Homo sapiens: one gene and its partners. The protein of the gene in region 2 purifies or fractionates together with the protein of the main gene of each other region. This does not show direct contact. Each region holds a gene or a part of one and is shown on either strand. Other genes may lie near its edges.

Region 1 (5,348 bases), on a different chromosome or scaffold from region 2:
CTGGCCCGCACCAGGTTCACCAACTAATACAGGAAAGTGACAAGGAGGCAAGCCATTAGAAGGCAGCACATGAGTGGTGGCACGCACCAGCAGTCCCAGCTACTTCGGAGGCTGAGGTGGGAGCATCGCTTGAGCCCAGAGGTTCAAGGCCAGCCTGGACAACGTAGTGAGATCCTGTCTCTTAAAAAATAAAAAAGAGAGGCTGGGTGCAGTGGCTTATACCTGTAATCCTAGCACTTTGGGAGGCCGAGGTGGGTGAATCATCTGAGGTCAGGAGTTCAAGACCAGCCTGGCCAACATGGTGAAACCCCATCTCTACTAAATTGGGCGTCATGGCAGGTGCCTGTAATCCCAGCTACTTGGGAGGCTGAGACAGGAGAATTCCTTGAACACGGGAGACGGTGGTTGCAGTAAGCCGAGATTGTGCCACTGCACTCCAGCCTAGGTGGCTGAGCAAGACTCCGTCTCAAAAATAAAAATTAAAAAAATAAAAATAAAAAAGAGACAGCTCTATTCTGTGAAAGTTGTGGAAACCAAGGGGAGGGAGGAGCACCTATTTCACCTTGGAGAGGGTCAGCCCAGTGTCCGTTAAAAAAGCCACCTTTAAATCAGTTCTGAAGGATGGAGGAGGTGGCAGCAACAGGACAATCATCACTCTAATTCCCAGGGCTTGTCTTTGTTGACTTAAACCATTTTCTTAGGGAAGAAGAACTGAGCATATGCGAAATTCATTTATACCGCTCTGCTCCTAACCTGCCTCAGTGTGAATATGTGCTTCTTGACATTGTTGTGAGTGATATGTACTTGCTAGTGTAGTCTTTTTTTTTTTACATGGCATGATTTCATATTTACATTTTCCTGCATAATGACATTTTCTATACACTTGTCATTTTTAATAGCACTATAATTTTCCATCATGTTGACATCCTATAATTTACCTTGTTATTTCTTGATTGCTGAGCGTTTGGGGAGTTTCCAGTTTTTCTTCACAAATAGCACCGTGTTATCTTTAGATAAGTTCATTTTTTTCCCTTTATATTCTTGGATTTATTTCTCAGTGAAATCACCCATTTGAGCAGGAGTGGTGGTGCTGCTCTTGTCACATAGCACCAAACGACATTTCAGAAAGAACAAGCTGATGCGGGCCGTGCCGGCATCACTGCCCCCTCCACCACGTCCCCACCCTGGGACTTAAAAGATTTAAACTTTTTTTTCCAAGTTAAAAAATCTTGGCCGGGCGCGGTGGCTCACGCCTGTAATCCCAGCACTTTGAGAGGCCGAGGCAGGCGGATCACGAGGTCAGGAGATCGAGACCATCTTGGCTAACACGGTGAAACCCCATCTCTACTAAAAATACAAAAAATTAGCCAGGCATGGTGGCGGGTGCCTGTAGTCCCAGCTACTCGGGAGGCTGAGGCAGGAGAATGGCGTGAACCCAGGAGACAGAGCTTGCAGTGAGCCGAGATCGCGCCACTGCACTCCAGCCTGGGCAACAGAGCGAGACTCTGTCTCAAAAAAAAAAAAAAAAAATCTTGGCCGGGTACAGTGGCTCACACCACTAATTCTACACTTTGGGAGGCTAAAATGGACAGATCACTTGAGGCCAGGAGCTCAAGACCAGCCTAGGCCAACACGGCAAAACCCTTCCCTACTAAAAATACGAAAATTACCTGGGTGTGGTGGTGCATGCCTGTAGTTCCAGCCTCTCAGGAGGCTGAGGCGGGAGAATCGGTTGAACCTGAGAGGCGGAGGCTGCAGTGAGCCAGGATCGTGCCACTGCACTCCAGCCTGGGTGACAGAGCAAGGCTCCATCTCAAAAAAAAAAAAATCTTAAATATATACTTTAAAACATTGTCTTTTTTGCTTTAATTCATTGTTAAAAATAGTGTGACATTGAGGGCAAATATTTAAAAGAAAAAAGTCTCCTCTAGTACCTCTCCAGCACACTTACTTTGGTTTTTGTTGTTCCTGCACATCTGCGTGTGTTATTATTATTATTATTATTATTATTATTATTATTATTATTATTATTTTGAGATAGAATTTCCCTCTTGTCAGCCCAGGCTGGAATGCAGTGGCGCAATCTCGGCTTACTGCAACCTCTGTCTCCTGGGCTCAAGCGATTCTCCTGTTTCAGCCTCCCAAGTAGCTGGGATTACAGGCGCCCGCCACCATGCCCAGCTAATTTTTTTTTTTTTAATAGAAACGGGGTTTCACTATGTTGGACAGGCCGGTCTCGAACTCCTGGCCTCAGGTAATCTGCCAGCCTCGGCCTCCCAATGTGCTGGGATTACAGGCATGAGCCACCGTGCCTGACCACCTCCCTCGCTTTCTGAGCTTCCTTGTTTCTTTGCCCACTCAATGCCCACTGAGCATCACTTAGTGGTGTTTGGCGTTCACATCCCTTTGGCTGAGACGGGGTCACCCTCATTTTGGCCCCCAGCCCTGAGCACAGAACCTGGCACCCAGCAGGCATCCAATCCAGCTTTCAAGGTTTTTTTGTTCTGCAAGTGCTGGCTTGAGCAGATCCTTCTGGATTGGCCAGCTGGGATCCTGTGGAAGCCCCAGGGAATCCGTACGCCCCAGGCAAGCCACGCCAGTGTCCAGGGGAGTGACCAGCTTACTTTTCTCCCTCAGGACTTCCTGGGCAGATACCCAGTCTCCAGGCACTCCTGGGTGGGGGCCTGGCGAGGCCCCCAGGGCTGGCACTGGATCGACGAGGCCCCACTCCCGCCCCAGCTGTGAGTGACCACGGGCTTTTCTCCCTCCTCTGCTGTTCTGGATCCTCCATTTCTCCCCAGACTCCACCTCCTTGCTGCTCCCCTAGCCTGGAATGCCACTTGGAAAGCAGCCCACGCCCATGCTCGCGGCCTGGTGCCTGATTAGACCCTGTCGCTTCACTCTTTATTTGGGTTCCCAGCACGTTCACCCAAGCAGGGTTGTCACCCCCATTTTACAGATGCGGGGTCAGCTGCCCAGGGAGGTTTGGGGATTCATCCAGTGCCACGTGGCTGACCAGTGCAGTGACTCACTCAGTGCCCAGGCCGGTAGAGGTGACAGGCACACACGCTGGAGGGTCTGGCTGGGAAGCAAGGCCCCGGCACCCTAAACACCTCTCCTCTTTCCCCTCCCATCCTTTCCCAGACTCCCTGAGGACGGCGAGGACAATCTGGATATCAACTGTGGGGCCCTGGAGGAAGGCACGCTGGTGGCTGCAAACTGCAGCACTCCAAGACCCTGGGTCTGTGCCAAGGGGACCCAGTGATCTGGGCTCTGCCTGGTCCTCAGCCTGCCAGGCAGATGCAGCACCCCCTACAGGGGAGGCCAGTTGAGAGCTTGGGCAGCCTCTTCCTGGACCCAGTTATCCAGGTCTTCATGCTCTGCTCAAGGGGGCCACATGAGCGAGCCTAGGAGCTGGACTTCAACCCAGGAAGATGCATCCGAGGGAAAGGAGATTTTCTATGGCCTCAGGCCTGAGTGCCAATATTAGTCTCCAGCTTCTGTGGATGATCGGTTTGATGACATTGGGATGGTTGTTTAGCATTTCTGTGCCTTGGTTTCATTAAAATGACAATTTCCCCCTAGAGGAAAAAGACAGGGTTAACAACCACAGCGGATTCCAATCTGGGTTCTCATTCCGGCTCATGGAAATGAGTCTGCCGTTGTTCAGTGGCAGTGGGACTTGGCAGGGATAACGTCATTGCTGTGAATTCTACTTCAGGCAGCTGGGTGTACATCGGACACAGCCTACCGGCAGCCTCTGGAAAATTAACCAAGGAAAAGGAGCGGTCAGCCCTGGAAAGAGGGGAGAGCAAGGTTTTCCTTCCCCACCCTGAGAGTTGGCAAAGGGTTGGCAGACAGGAAGGTTCTGGGTGGAGATCCCGCATGTGGGCTGGCCAGCCCCTGGCACGCTGATGCCCAAGGGTGAGACAAGGCAGAGAGGACAGGGCCACCTGGCAGGAGAAGCCAGGAGAGCACCCCAGCTTGGTAGGTGGAAGCTGAGGAGTCTGAGTGAAAAAGGAAATCAGAGAAATGCAGGCACGTTCCAGGCAGCTCTTCTACCCACAGCTGCAGAGACGACCAACCTGAAGATGTCTCCATGCTGGGGTGCAGTGAAGACCTTCAGGCTGGAGGATGTGGCTGACAGAGTTGTGTAGTTCCTTGAGTCCAGCTAGACCTCCAAACAGCAGGAGCCTGGGCCTGCGTGTTGGCTTGGTGCTGAGCACGCACTCAACTGGCCCTTGCAAGCCAGCCTTCCCTCAAAAGTCAGACCATGCACCCAGATCCCTCCCAAACAGAAATCCTTATTGGTGCGTTTGAACCAGTAATGGGCCGTCTGGGAGAATGGGATGGAGAGTCCTAGATGGGAGAAATTTCTCACACTGTATTTTTCATTAGTATTATTATACTTTAAGTTCTGGGGTACATGTGCAGAACGTGCAGGTTTGTTACATAGGTATACACATGCCATGGTGGTTTGCTGCACCCATCAACTTGTCATCTACATTAGAAATTTCTCCTAATGCTATCCCTGCCTTCTCACACTCCTGAAAGTAATAACAAAAAGGGAAATGGAGGCCGGGCACGGTGGCTCATGCCTGTAATCCCAGCATTTTGGGAGGCCGAGGTGGGCGAATCACAAGGTCAGGAGTTCGAGACCAGCCTGCCAGCCTGGCCAACATGGTGAAACCCTGTCTCTACTAAAAACACAAAAAAATAGCTGGGCGTGGTGGTGGGTGCCTGTAATTCTAGCTACTCGGGAGGCTGGGGCAGGAGAATTGCTTGAACCCAGGAGGCGGAGGTTGCAGTGAGCCGAGATTGTGCCACTGCACTGCAGCCCGGGTGACAGTGCAAGACTCTGTCTCAAAAAAAAAAAAAAAAAAAAGGACATGGAAATTCCCTGGCTGGATGTGAAATGGGTGGCTCACGTGGGGCAGGCGCCAATCAAAATACATCCTATGTGGGCAGGAAGCTGTGTATGTTACCGCCCCCATCCCCTGCCATGTGTTCCCAGGATCTGTGCCTGGAGAAATGACACATCTGTAGGTTATGAGTATACAGAACCTTATCTAGCCTTCTCAGTACCTTTTAGAGAAGGGAAGTGTTGTACTCAGTGTTACCCAGCTAGAAAGTGGAAGGTCTAGAATGAAACCCACTTGCTATCTGACTCCAAAGGCCGCATTCTTTCCATCCCAGCACGCAGTAGAGGAATCTAGAAAGGTATTAGTGGCAGCGGAGTGGGAAGCCATCAGGTGGAGTGAGGGAGAAAGGAGGTACCAAGTTGTTTCACACTTGTGATAATCCACTCCCTCGGTTATCTGTTGCTTTATAACAAAAAAAAAAATTTT
Region 2 (5,348 bases):
ACAGAGATTCAGACCTAGGCCTGACTGACTTGCCACTAGGCTACACTGACCCAGGGCCACTCTCCTCAGTGTAACCTCCACCTACTTTCCCCACACCCATCCCCAGCCTTACTCCACTAGGTCACCTTCACACACATCCGGGTTATTCTTAATAACCTATTAATGTTTGGTTTGCATTTTGCCCTGGGAATTTACTGAGGGTTAGTACAAGAAATGATGCAAGAGGCCAGGCGTAGTGGCTCACGCCTGTAATCCCAGCACTTTGGGAGGCCAAGGCAGGTGGATCACCTGAAGTCAGGAGCTCAAGACCAGCTTGGCCAACATGGTGAAACCCTGCCTCTACTAAAAATATAAAAATTAGCCAAGCGTGGTGGTGGGCACCTGTAATCCCAGCTACTCTGGAGGCTGAGGCAGGAGAATCACTTGAACCTGGGAGGCGGAGGTTGCAATGAGCTGAGATCACGCCACTGCACTCCAGCCTGGGCAACACAGTGAGACTCCATTTCAAAAAAAAAAAAAAAGAAAGAAAGAAAAGAAATTATGCAAGAAATCTGAAGACCTTTGTTTTTGCCATCATTTATAAAAGTATGACTGAGTTTGCCGTCATTCAGCTGTCCTTACATGAAGATGAATGGGCAGATTGCTTCTCGAATTTAGTGCTAGGATGAAGGTTTCTTCTTTTGGTGGCAGGTTGTTTCTTTCTATCACTGGGGTTGGGGTGCCATACAACTTGGGGTCTTCCCTTTGTTTAAACTGATGTTGCCGGGTTCTCCACAGCCGTAGCACACAACCGGTTCTTGCGCCCTCATCTTAGTGGCTCTATTGTATTTGCCTTTTATATCCTTTTTATGGTAGTCTGCCTGAAATCGTTTAGGTGAAGGGGTCAGGGCATGGGACTTTATAAAATAAGGTTACTCTTAAGCTCCTTAAGACTTTACTCTTCTGTACATTGGTTCTGATTTTCTTTTTACTGTGACCTCATGTGACGGCAGCTTCCCACCCTGGTCTCCCAGATCCTATTCAGTGCCGTCCTCAATAATTTCTGGTGCTTAAAATATTTAAGACAAAGCAAACTGAGCAGTGCGAGGCAGTGCTCCAGGGGCTGCTTGTGGTTTGTTTTCTGGGTAGCAGCAGATGGCACTTTCTGTTTGTCACCAGTGACTTTTGCTGGGCTGAGGTCAGTATTTTTCCAGAAACACGTTTGGGCTGATGGGTTTAAGGAAAACGTGTGCATGGGCATGTGTGTCTGTGTGTGTGTGTATGTGGCATACACTCCAGCTGAGGTGTCTGGTGTAGCATAGAGAAGCAAATGTGTTCATTTGCAAACAAACATGTATTCATGAACTAGCACATACTGTGTATTAGGTCCTCTGTTAGGTATTAAAACTGGAAACTTTTTTTTGAGACAGGGTCTGGCTCTATCACCCAGGCTGGAGTGCAGTGGCAGGATCTCAGCTCACTTCAATCTCCACCTCCCAGGCTCAAGGCATCCACCTCAGCCTCCTGAGTAGCTGGGACTACAGGCATGTGCCACCACGCCCAGCTAATTTTTTTACATTTTCGTAGAGACAGAGTTTCACCGTGTTGCCCAGGCTGGTCTCTAACTCCTGAGCTCAAGGCGATCCACCCATCTGGGCCTCCCAAAGTGCTGGGATTACAGGTGTGAGCCACCACATCTGGCCAAAACTGGAAAAGTTTAAAGTGCTGGTCCTTTGAGTGGATTTTTTGTTTGTTAACAGCTTTATTGAGTTATAATTTACGTATAAAGTCCCCTTGTTTAAAGTGTACAATGTCATGGTTTTTAGTGTATTCATGGAGTTGTGCAACCATTATCATAATGTAATTTCAGAACATTTAAATTCCCCTAAAAAGAAACCTTATACCCATTAGGAATCACTCCCCATTTCTTTCCCAAGCCCCCAGCCTTAGGCAGCAACCAATCTACATTCTGTCTCTACAGAGGATCATATGCTGGATATTCCATAATCATGGAATCATATAGTATATGGATTTTTGTGACTGGCTCCTTTCATTTTATTCTTTATTATGGCCAAACAATATTCCACGATAATAAATAAGCCACATTTTGTTAATCAGCTCATTAGCTGGTGGATGTTTGGGTAGTTTCTGCTTTTGGCTAGTATGAATAATGAAGCTATGGACATTTGTGTGCAGGGGTGTGGGTGGAGATCTCCTCCATTAAGCTTTGTCCAGTAACAATTTATGAGTCTGTCTCCCACGAGACTGTGAGTTGCTGGCACACTCAGCATCCTTTCTGACCCTAGCTTAGGCCGGGGAGATAGGCTCTAGAGTTGACACTTGGAAAGTGCCTGGGGAAGGAAGGAGGGGAGGGAGGGAGGGCAAGGGGATGTCTGCCTTGTTTCTGAGGGTGCAGAGGGATAGGGAACTCACCCTTCTGGGTCTCTGGCCTGGGTAACCGGCACACTCTCTTCTTGAGGGTGGACTTCTTGGTGGGCTGGGCAGTGGTGGGAAGGAAATCAACTACAGAAAGAAAGCAAGACACATATCTTAGCCAAGTGAACACCACGTGGACTCAAAGACAAAACTTTGTCTTATGGCGGGTGCGGTGGCTCATGCCTGGAATCCCAACACTTCCGGAGGCCAAGGCAGGAGATCATTTGAGCTCAGGAGGTTGAGACCAGCCTGGGCAACATGGTGAAACCCCCTCTCTACAAAAAATAAAAAGTTTAGCCAGGCGTGGTGGCATATGCCTACAGTCCCAGCTACCCAGGAGGCTGAGGTGAGAGGATCACCTGAGCTTGGGAAGTCAAGGCTGAAGTGAGCCATGATCATGCAACTGCACTCTGGCCTGGACGACAGAGCAAGACCCTGTCTCAAGAGCAAATAAATGAACAAATGAACAAAATTTGTCTTACATCCAAGTACTGAAGTCCTTATGACTGTTCCCCAGGCTGCTACAGGGCTTGAAGGTCACAGAGCAATAGAATGTTTGATCTGCTTTCTGAATTCTCAGATGTTGGGAAAGGGGTGAGGGCCTAGAGATGGGGTTCAGCTTGGTGTCCTGGAGAGAGGAAGGCTCTGGAGCCACACAGAACTGAGCAGAGCCTACACCTCTGATTTATTTATTTTTATTTATTTATTTATTTATTTATTTTTTGAGACAAAGTCTCGCTCTGTAGCCCAGGCTGGAGGGCAGTGGCACGATCTCGGCTCACTGCAACCTTTGCCTCCCAGGTTCAAGCAATTATCCTGCCTCAGCCTCCAGAGTAGCTGGGATTACAGGCACGTACCACTGCATTCGTCGTGCCACTGCATTCGTCGTGCCACTGCATTCGTCTAATTTTTTGTATTTTTAGTAGAGACGGGGTTTCACCATGTTGGCCAGGCTGGTCTTGAACTCCTGATCTCAGGTAATCCACTCACCTCGGCCTCCAAAAGTGCTAGTATTACAGGTACGAGCCACCGCACCCGGCCGACCTACACCCCTGATTAACCGCTGTGTGACTTGGGACAAGTCATAGCATTTTTCTGTGCCTTGATTTCCTTATCTGCTGAAATAATGATAACTGCCACCTCCTTCTTGGGATTATCTGAGAATGAAAGGGACAGTGTGTCCAAAAAAAGTTTCAGTAGATGTGGCTCCACCTGGCTGAAGACCTTGAGCCCCAGGGCTGGATCGCCCAGCCTTTGGCACAACGAGCCCCTCCGCCCAACTCGGCATTCCCTAAGCACATGGAGGAAGCTCATGGAAGGAGGGGGTGCCCTTTTCTGCATGTAGAGTACCACACAGGTGTCATATTTGGGGATTGGTTTTCCTTCTCAGATGGCCCTAAAATATATATATAATACCAGAGCTAAGGGAAGTTCAGTCTCAAACTTTAATTTCAAAGGTGAACGCCAGAGATGAGGGGAGCTGGCCCCTGCAGCCCCAAGTGGTGAGTGCTGTGTTGGGACCCCAAACCCCTGTCCTGACTCCTGGATGGGTCACCCCTCTCCTTCATTTTTACCCAGTGACCCCTGCTGAAGTGTTGGGAGGGGCAGTGGGCCAGCACCCAGAGCAAAGGAAGACAGCTGTGGCTCTGATGCCTACTGGGGATGAAGGGGGCACTGCTGGCCACAGAGTCCAACCCTTGCCTTTGTGGGTTAAGGAAACAGATCTCTCTGCACTGATTTTCTCCAAAATGGTAGGAGAGGGAGTAAGGAGACACCATGAACCTAAACTCTAGAGTCAGGGGGACAGAAAAAAAAAAAAGAAAAGAAAAGAAATATTAAGGCTGGGCGCGGTGACTCACGCCTGTAATCCCAGCACTTTGGGAGGCCGAGGCAGGCAGATCACCTGAGGTCAGGAGTCCAAGACCAGCCTGGCCAACATGGCAAAACCCTGTGCCTACTAAAAATACAAAAATTAGTTGGGCGTGGTGGCACGTGCCTGTAATCCCAGCTACTCAGGAGGCTGAGGCAGCAGAGTCGTTTGAACCTGTGAGGCAGAGGTTGCAGTCAGCCAAGATCCTGCCACTAAACTCCAGCCTGGGTGACAGTGACTCCGTCTCAAAAAAAAAAAAGGTTTTGGGGGGTTGTAAGGGGGAACAGGCAGGGGAAGCCCACAGATCAGTCATTTTTGGGCTGGCATCTTCTATATAAAAGTAGACATTTTAACCCCTCACCTCTCTGAGCCTCCTCTGGAAAGCGGAGAGAACACGATCTGTTTGTCTGCTTCAAGACATTGATGGGAAGAAGCAACTAGGATGAAAGTGCACTAAGCTCCAACCATGTGTGGGGAGCAGTGCTGAGCCTTTCAGCATAAGTTTACTGGACACAACAACTTTTGGGGCAGGCACTGTTGTCCCCATTTTATCCAGGAGGAAGCCTAGGCTCAGAGAGCTGAAATAATGTGTCCAAAGTTAGACAGCCACTGGCTGCAGAGCCAGTATCTGCACCAAAAGACCTTGATTCTAGAACCTGTGCTTCTCGTTCTGCCACACTACCTCACGTGCAAAGATTTTCTGACAAAAGTTGAACACTTTAGGTCCACCCAAGGCCCTGGGTCATCATAGTGCTGAGGGCAACTATTGTAAGAGGAAACTGTCATCAGCAGGGTCGGAGAGCGTGCAACGAGCCTGGCCCTCTCCTGGGAGTGTTGCCTCCTTCAATCCTCATGGCCCTAGAAGTAGTTCTGTTTGACTTATTTTCTACCCGAGGAAGCAGGGACGTCTTTCAGATGGTCAGTGGTGAGCCCAGAGGGGAGCCAACTCTTTGGGCCCTCAGTGCCTTGGCTGGGCACCGCCGCCTGGGTCTAGTGGGAGACTCAGGTTGGGGGACTGTTCTGTTTTAAATTCTTCTTGCCTAGAGCCAGGTCCCCCTGGATT
Region 3 (4,131 bases), on a different chromosome or scaffold from region 2:
TCCAAAGTCTGGCTTTCTTATAATCCATCACTTTGATTACAAAACAGCTCTCTTCTGGGAATTTCAAAACACTTCCCGTTACGTTAAGGGAAAATGGGTACACCAGATTCATGGGTTACAGGATTGCTTTCTCTAGACTTGGCTTCTCTTTAACATGGCTAAATGGAAATAATTTAGCTTGGTTAAATGAAAGCTACTTCACTTACAGGATAATCTCAGGAGACATGAGTGGAGTTTTTCATATGGAATTTCTTAGTAAAATGTACTGTTTAGGATATGAGAGACGGAATTAAGATAATGTTTTCCAGATGATTCTTGGCCTGATCCTAAGAATCAACAATAACAATCAATAGCAAGGAACATTACACATTCAACCCTGAGTGATGAAGAGAGTTCAGGAAGAGAGCCCCTTAAACTCTGAATTAAGGGCTCTTTGGTAATATCATATACTATAATATTTCAAACCAAAACTTCAGAAGGGTTCATGATCCTATTTCAGGACTTTAGAAAATATACTTTGTCCTCTGGAAGCAATTTCACATATATTATTTTGCCCCCAGATAAGCCACAACTACCTGCTTAAATTTTTTTTTAAACTATGGAATTAAATAAACATGCATCTCTAGATTTCTAGGGCAACTTTTCATCATATCTTTGAAGAGTCATGACATTAACTCTGGTCCACATACCTGGGGCCTAAAAAAATCAGGTACATATAATAGGAATCACATCATGAGCCTAATTTCAAAGCCAGTGTCTTGCCTTTGGACTGTGTGTGTGAGGCATGCCTATTTGTAAATGAGCTCCACTATCATTGGTTTTAGGCAATAGTGTTTTCTTAGCTTAGAAATTTCTTACCTTAAGAATTCAAACAGGAGGGGCTTTGTTTAGCCTTCTTGGTTTAGGCAGGGACAATGCAACACTTGAGAGGCAGCAGTGATTTCTGAGCAAAATTCTAAGATATATTCGATAGGTTTGCTCTCCCCTCCCCCCATACTCCTACCCTTTGCCCCCTAATTTTATTTTGTTTTCCCTCGTTGTGATCAATTTTAAAAGACAGTTCTCAAGCAGCACAAAACGGTGTAACTTATGCCCCTCCCTTATGCTCCACTAAAACAAGTCTCTTATGTAAATATTAGGGTCACTCAATTCCACACCTTAGAACCACTGGGGTTAAAAGGCAACCTTCTGCAGATAAGTGGTCTTAACAAACAAATATAAAAGCAGACTTTAGAGTCTGGGTTTCAACTAATTCTCTCAAAGAGGGACTGAGCAGGACTCATAAACATAAACTCATATTCCCTACAGATTAAGACTTTTTATGATAATACCTAATTCTACTGCTTAATATAAGACAGCGTTCAGATTTCACTCTTCCATATACATATTATAATGGGACAATATACACTTTTTTAAAAGTCTGAGTTTTTCTTCCCAAAATAACAAAAATATTTTTTAAAGTGCATGTATCAATTCATTAAGAAAAAAATAACTAAGAATGGTCTAATTCCAAATTGCTACCTACTTCCATGATAAAGCTACCTGTTATCTAAGGATTGAGTTTTAATATCAGAGTCCTGAGGACATGTCATCAAGCAACAGAGGTTAGCATAAAGCCCTTCCGGAGCAGCTTCACAATCACTCTTGTACTGACATGCCAGTTAGTAAGGAAAACAGCAGAGATCATGGCCTGAGGGAAGGGGAAAATACAGCACAGATGTATTTTCTTGAAAGATGGAGACCAAGAAACAATTTTTTTTTTTTTGAGACGGAATCTTGCTCTGTTGCCCAGTCTGGAGTGCAGTGGCATGATCTCGGCTCGCTGCAACCTCTGCCTCCTGGGCTCAAGAAATTCTCCCTGCTTCTGCCTCCAGAGTAGCTGGGATTACAGATGCCCGCCACCACGCCCAGCTAATTTTTTGTATTTTTAGTAGCGACGGAGTTTCACTATGTTGGCCAGGCTGGTCTCGAACTCCTGGCCTAAGGTGGTCTGCCCACCTTGGCCTCCCAAAGTGCTGGGATTACAGGCGTGGGCCACGGCGCCTGGCCTCCAAGAAACATTTTTATGAAGACCACCTCCTGGGTAACCCATGTTGAATGAAACAGGTCTGCTAAAAATCAGGGGCTCTCCAACAGAGCCGATATGCAGGGGACATTCTCAGCATTCTCTAATTGGACACTTGTCAAAAGGAACAGAATGTTAGAATCATCTTTGCCTAGGAATTGGTAGTTTAAAATTTTTACATTTATGCGGGGAGTGTGTGTATACATATATATACAGCAAACCAAAAATAAATTCTAAATCCCCCAACCGGCTGAATGGACCCCTGTCTTGGCCCAGGGGATCTCAAAGGAACCTGAAAAACTAGTCCATGATGGGAAGACAGGGTGCCTCATATTATGGTCAGATTACAGGGTGCCTCATATTACCCTCTTCCCTTTGGAATTTAAATACAACTGACCAGCATTAACATTAAAACAGAGATCTTAAGACTAACCAAACAGACCCTTTGTGGCAATAAAATACCAAATCCCAACCTGACTCTGGTATAGCATCACATGACAGCAGGCCCCAAAGGAAATTTACCCCCCAATATATTTATTTGACGTATTTTGAAATGGCCCTACAAAGCTGTCTCTTGTGGGGGAAACTGCATTCTGTAGAGAATCTCCTTCTCTTATTAGGTCTTTTCTGGAGAGTCTGACACCTTTTAAGGCCTAAAAAGAAAAATTCATCATCTGTTCTCTCTGAAGCCTGCTACCTGGAGGCTTCATCTACATGACTTAAGCCAAGCCTCCCTTACTTTAACTTAAGCTGACTTCATCTTTTCAGGTAAAGTTTAACTCTCTCAACCAACTGCCAGTCAGGAACTCTTTGATCTACCTCTGACCTGGAAACCCCCATCTTCAAGATGTCCTGCCTTTCCAGGCCAAACCAGTGTATACCTTACATGTATTGATTTATGGCTTTGCCTGGACCTTCTGTCTCCCTCAAATGTATAAAACTGTAACCCGACTACCTCGGGCACATGTTCTAAGAACCTCCTGAGGCCCCATCATGGGCTCTGAACCTTGGCAAAATAAACCTCTAAATGTATTGAGACCTGTCTCAGATACTTTTTGGTTTACAATATATTTATATTTCTTTTAAGCTGTTTGCTGAAATTTTTTCACAATAAAACACTGGGGGAAAAGAAATCAATACTTTAAATATGTCTTCCTTTCTAAAAGGCCCATCTCTCAACAAAGTGGCAAAACTAAAACTAAAGAAATTTAAGAACTCAGTCACTATAGAGAATTCCAATCTCTCTCCTACTATGAAGCACTTTCTTTCAATTGTTTGTTACTATTTGTTTGTGCTCTAGAGAACAGGGTGAGGATCAAAGCAAACGGTTTTCATTTCATTGTTTGGGTCTATAAATTTGGACTGGGAGGGGCTGAGGAAATGACTGTCTCTTAGAATTTGCTGGGCTGTGGGTTCTCAGTAATTACCTGTGCTTCAGTAAGTAGTATCTTGCCCCTAAAGTTCAATTATTTCAGAAATGTAACATGAAAATAGTGAATTAGACAGTGAAAATATCTTCTTTTAGCTATTTTGTGCTAATGGAACACAGAAACCCTGACAGTTGGTGAAAAACCAGTATGAATGAAATGTAACCATGCCCAGGACTTCAAAAGTGACCAGACCCTAAGAGGCACACAGAGGTGAGGGGAACAAGTCCCTTAGGCTTCCCTGATGCAACAGAACTAGGATTCCAAAGAAAATAAGCAGAGAATCTCATGGTGAAAATAAATAATAACAAGTGTTATCCTTGGGAGCTTGCTGTGTATGGCCTGACTGTTTCAATTTGAGAGAAAGGCAGAAGTTAATAATAAACAGGAAAAATAAGCAAGGCTTTAGCTGACTAGAAAACAGCTCAGTAGAAAATTATTTTACAAAGATTATATTCAGTTAGCTAAGGCATGATTCAACTTCAATGATGCAAGAGCGGTCACTCAGCTATCCAATGGGATGACACACAGCAAATCAGCTCTTCACTGCCTCAACAGACAGTCACTAAAATAATTTCTTTAAAGGTATATAAATGTTGGCCAGTGTAATCCTCTACAAAACACATTTGCAAATATAAA
Region 4 (5,348 bases), on a different chromosome or scaffold from region 2:
GTAGAATACAAACAGGACATAAAAGTTTCCAAATTACTAGAGAAAAAGAAAAAAACTCATCACTATAACTAGAAGAAAAGTGAAAAGGAAACTACTGGAAAGTAATAACAAAAATATTAAAAAAGGTTATAAAACAGACTTTAGACACATCCAAAATACATCCAAAATGTTAATAATGGTCACCTCAAGATTTTGGTATATAATATAACTTTTCTGTTTTTCCCCCTAAATTTATTACAAAGAATATGGATTACTTTTGAAATAAAAGAATTATACTAAAAACTATTTCAGACAAAACTAAAAGCAACTATCTGTCTTCAAGCGTACGATTCCTCAACCCGTGTATTTCAAAAAACCATGTGAATCAAACTTACTGGTTCATAAACTAAACCATCTGCAGATGCAACCATTGTTTCTGCTAAATCCAATACATCCGCTCCAACATCTGCATAGAAAAAAGAATTAGAAGTTTTACATTCTATGCTTGGAGGCAAACCATCCCCAATATAAACAAATTAAGCCAACTAACAGAAAACTCACCAAGCAAAAAAAAAAAAAAAACCTCACCAACTATGTAGAATAATTTCCGATATATTTGTCCAAAAGCTAAAACAGTAGCCTTATATAGCTTAGGTGGAGATTATTCCAAAATGTAATAATGTTTTTTCTTACCCAGTAAAAAACTTCTTACCCAATAAAAAAAAAAAGATAATTCAAGATCTCATTTAAAAAGGATAAGCGTCACTGAATTGAAGAGCTTTGCAAATATCGGCAAGAACCTAATCACAAGTACTAAGTGGCTGCTGAACAAAATATTAATTCCAAGAAATATTTTTAGAGATTAAAAGAAATCGTAAAGCTATGCTACAAATCAACAAATAGGAAATTTTATTCGGAAAAGGCTAAAATTTAACAGTATTTAAACATCCAAAATAAGGCAGAATATCATATATTCAGAATTACCACTAACTACAAGTTTAAAAATAAAGTATTTTTTTATCTCTTAAAACCACCAACATAAGGAAAAACATATTGAAAAGAAAGAGATTCAAGGTCGTTCTGAGATAGAATCTCACAGAAAATAACCTCTAATTAATTGGGTAAAATTATTTCATACTTTTAAAAATGTAAAAATTTTCTCTGAGTTCTTGGTCTGTAATTTTTAAGCAGTAACTCATAAAATATTTTTCATGCAAAAGCATTCTTATTTTTGAAAACAGTATTGATTCAAACATTCACTATCTGGCATATTAGCATTTTTCCACTTCTATTAGTATAACCAAGTGAGTCCAGTGACGAAAAAAGAAAAGGGTAACCTATCACCATTAACTTAAAATAACTGGATCTGTATTTTTAAACGCAAGAGTAAACATAAAAGGTGGTAAACTGAAACAGTGACACAAGGATATGCTTGTGAAACATGGGTATAAAAGCTAGTACTCCAAACAAAAAAAGACAGAAAGGATGTACATAAACTAGAATGCTGATTCACAAACATTTCCTCCAACTTTCTTTTAATTATACTAATGTGAAAGTTTTATCTCTTCTCTTTATGGAAAAGAAACTTGAAGAATATAAGCTGAGGAGTAAAACAATTTGTATTATTAAATAATACCACAGTAAAACTTTAAAATATTATAAAGGAAAAATAAAGTACAACCAGTGATTTTTATTTTTGCTTGGCAATTGTTTGAACCATAACCTACATGTGGATTCAGCAAGTTGAAGGTGTACTTACATTGACACTTCATGGCAACAGTAATATCTATATTAATTCTTAATTTGCTGAAAGACAAAATATTAAACATTAGTACCTACCAATTAATTAGCAAAACATGAGAAATATAAATCAACTGACCTATTAAAAACTTGGATTTCAAGCAGAATAAATTATGTCGATTAGAACTTGAATTGCATTTCTCATGGCCAAAACAAAGGCTCTTTAAATTACAAGTTCTATTTTGCCCTTATTCCAAAAGCCTTTCTGACTTCACAGGTTTTTGAACACAGTATCCTTTAATAATGGCAACTCTATAATCAATAACTCTAAGCAACTCAGAAAAAGTCTTAACCTCTTAATCTCTATTTACATAAACTTTTGATAGAATGTTCTTTTAAGAATGTAAAACTCTCAAAATCAAGAATTAGGAATTGTCTTTCTTCTCTGTTTATCAAACACCATATATTAAGCATGATGCTAGATGTTCTACAAATATTATCTCCTTTATTCTATATCATGGAGCTATAAATGGATGGCTTCACAGATTTTCAAGTAAACCACTGGTGTTCACGGTAGTGTAAATACCTGGCTTAAGATCACATCACCATTAAAGTGGCATACTGGAAACTAGGTCTATGTAACTCAGGATAAATGCAACCAAACTACCAAAAGTAAATCACCTGATGCTTAAAATTTTTCATGGCCTTTCATTTTCAAATGATTAGATCAAAGCAATTTTCGAATACCAGAATGAAGCATTGCGAATAATAGACTGGCTATGATCAAATTCAGTCCTGTGCTTTCTATGATAACTTTTTTCTGTGTAATAATTTTCATCTGATTTAAAATAGGAATTACAGATTTTTAGACCTTCATGAAGTCTTAAAGTCATCTAGAGTTCAAACTGTGTTCCAAATAACCCAGGAGTTTAGGCTCAGGAGATAGGAACCAGGAGTAGGCCAAGTAGACAAACTTCTGCATATCCTCACCATGCTTATGTGGCGAACTATGTAATACATAAGACTTCATTTGGAAAAAAATGAAGTATTGCATTGGTGCTGAAAACAACAACAAATTCTTTGAAAACCAATACTATCCTGAATAGTACATTAGAGATGAAGAAACTGAAGTCCAAAAGAAGTCAGTGGTGTGACCTGCCCAAGGTTACACAGCAATTTACAAATGTTGACTAATTTAATTCTCATAAACCTCTTGAGGAAGATACTATAATTGCTGTCTGTACTTTACAAAAAAGGAAACTGAAGCATATACAGGTGCAGATTTAGTAAATTCCCTAAAATTATGTAAATGGCAAACCTGGATTGTAATTGAAAACTAAATGTGTCTTCCTATTTGGTGCAATCTTAATATTATAAACCTATTATCTTCATTCCATTGAAGAAATCCAAATAATACAAACGAATAGATGTAAAGTGTATAATTAAGGTACTATATTTTCAAAAGTTTAAAAGTAATCTTATTTACATAAAGATTTAGCTTAGGTATAATTTATAGACATCAAGTCATAAGGGTATACAATGTATCCTTAGACAACTTATTTTCCAGCTCACACAGATCAGTGAGGTATTTCAACCAGTTTCAAATATTAAACAATTTCCACAATATACATATCTAAGGAAAAATATTCCCCTAACTTTTTGAAACAAAGCATGCTAAATCAAAGAACCTCAGTTTTAGAATTCAACCACTATTTAAATGATTCTAAAAGGTTTCACTTAATGCATGCAATTAATGAGAATTTTTCAGGACTATTTCTTCAGAACTAAAACAAACCAAATCTAGAAGGTTAGACTTTTTCTTTTTTAAAAGGTATGCTCTTTTTAAAACAATTTGAATCTAAAGGTATTCCAAGAAGAAAAAAAATGATTACCTAGAAAAATCCTTGTCTACTTCGTATTCATACTTCATCCATGTATCTTGATATACTGAGAATTCCATTATGGTTAATAAAGCCATAGTTGTAAATGCTATTAGAGAAACTGGGAAATCCAACAACAAAAGAAAAACAGAATTAAAACAATAAAAAAAGCAAAGAATAGGAAACTAATTTAAGTGAGATTAAATTTTCAAAAGAAAAAGCCTAATAATGTAACTTCCATTTGAATGCATACTATAGAAGGTTTTTATTCAAAATGTTTATTATGCATTTTTTCTAATACAGCTCAAAAGTTAAGGTTTAATATATACAAATATGAACATAAACACTTGCATTACTAAGAAAGCATTTTATTTCTCCAATTTTAAGGGCATCTCTCACTAAGTAGAGTTGACAAAATTTGTATTTCTTATATAAAACAGTGTCACAGATAGGATAAATGATGAAAGTAAGCATGCCTTATAGCACAAATTTGAAAACAGTTGCTTCATTATTAAAAATGCATCCATGTCTATAAATATAATTTGTATATAAATGTATATAAATTGGGCTATAAGCCCAATTTAAAACAAACAAAAAGGTAGCCTAATTTCTTAGATCCTGAGAAACCACAATAATCTGTGTGCCAGAAACTCAAATAACATCTCTAAATAGCTAACAAAACTCTCCTCTACTTGGCAATCTCCTAAATATATCACCTCATTCACAGAACTGAGTAAAAGATCTGACAAAAAGAAAATCTATTATATACTAAAGCAAAATACTTAAAATAGATTTTGCAAGAACTTGCACTATTTTCATTAACAAAACTTAATCACAAGTGGATCAGAAATAGTAAGCAACTTATTACCCATTTTACCAAATAAAATGTCAACCTTAAGTGAAATACATTATTTTACTACCTTTTCATAGGGAAAGAAATTATACTGAATATTGTTATAGTCACACATTTTTCTTATATATTTCATTATTTATTTTACTTAACTGATACTTTTATCTGTACCAGGCACTGGGTCTAAGCATTTTATGAAAATATTAATAGTATAGTAACCCCTAGGAGGTAAATACTAGTATGATCCCTATTTCATGGAAGAAACTAAGACAGATAGATTTGAATAACTTCCTCAAGGTCACATATTTAGGAAAGGGCAGCAAAGCAGAAACATTGGTTTAATGTATTAATGTTTTAATAAACACTGCCAAAGGCACAGATGGCACTGTGTTGGAGGCTATAGAGAATATTAATAAGAATTACAGCCAACAGAGTGGCATGAAGACAGACAAGTTACGAAGTTACGGCAGAATTCATTGATAAATTCTTCCTCATGGCTACATTTCTATATGTTGTTGACTGGATCACGCAGAAGTTGTACTTACTACAGAACTTTTAATGTTAACTGATACTCACCTGTACCTCCACTGGCTGAAGTCTCTACATAGCTCTCAGGAACCTTCGGAAAGGCATCCAACTCTTTTACCAAACTTAAAGTTTTTTTCCGATTCAGTCGCCTCATCTTCAGGAAAACCTTCCTCTTCCTTCATATAGTCATGCTAAGGAATAAATAAATTAATGAATAAATGAATCCTTTAAAGAGATAAAAAGGTTTCTTTAAATTTAGGATAACTGACAAATGTCCTTAAAACAACTTAACATTCTCATCCCCCCTTAAAAATAAAAAGCATAGTATTTATCCACACTACTCCTTTCCCCATTCATGCCCTGACAAAAAC

The links. Proteins that work in one complex are often made in the same cells at the same time.
Region 1: the proteins of CD8B (region 2) and KLRG2 purify together in Homo sapiens (affinity purification with mass spectrometry; one large-scale study listed by BioGRID and IntAct). This does not show direct contact.
Region 3: the proteins of CD8B (region 2) and TMED8 purify together in Homo sapiens (affinity purification with mass spectrometry; one large-scale study listed by BioGRID and IntAct). This does not show direct contact.
Region 4: the proteins of CD8B (region 2) and ERGIC2 purify together in Homo sapiens (affinity purification with mass spectrometry; one large-scale study listed by BioGRID and IntAct). This does not show direct contact.

What each region holds. Positions count from the first base shown.
Region 1 is NC_000007.14:139,451,504-139,456,851, reverse strand, and holds the end of KLRG2 (killer cell lectin-like receptor subfamily G member 2), read left to right. Parts: intron 1-2,637; coding exon 2,638-2,741; intron 2,742-3,144; coding exon 3,145-3,265; 3' UTR 3,266-4,162; downstream 4,163-5,348.
Region 2 is NC_000002.12:86,850,585-86,855,932, forward strand, and holds part of CD8B (T-cell surface glycoprotein CD8 beta chain isoform 5 precursor), read right to left. Parts: intron 2,503-5,348; coding exon 2,413-2,502; intron 1-2,412. UniProt on the Homo sapiens protein: Integral membrane glycoprotein that plays an essential role in the immune response and serves multiple functions in responses against both external and internal offenses. In T-cells, functions primarily as a coreceptor for MHC class I molecule:peptide complex.
Region 3 is NC_000014.9:77,335,642-77,339,772, forward strand, and holds part of TMED8 (protein TMED8), read right to left. Parts: 3' UTR 1-4,131.
Region 4 is NC_000012.12:29,366,503-29,371,850, forward strand, and holds part of ERGIC2 (endoplasmic reticulum-Golgi intermediate compartment protein 2), read right to left. Parts: intron 5,169-5,348; 5' UTR 5,132-5,168; coding exon 5,026-5,131; intron 3,721-5,025; coding exon 3,612-3,720; intron 1,786-3,611; coding exon 1,739-1,785; intron 446-1,738; coding exon 375-445; intron 1-374. UniProt on the Homo sapiens protein: Possible role in transport between endoplasmic reticulum and Golgi.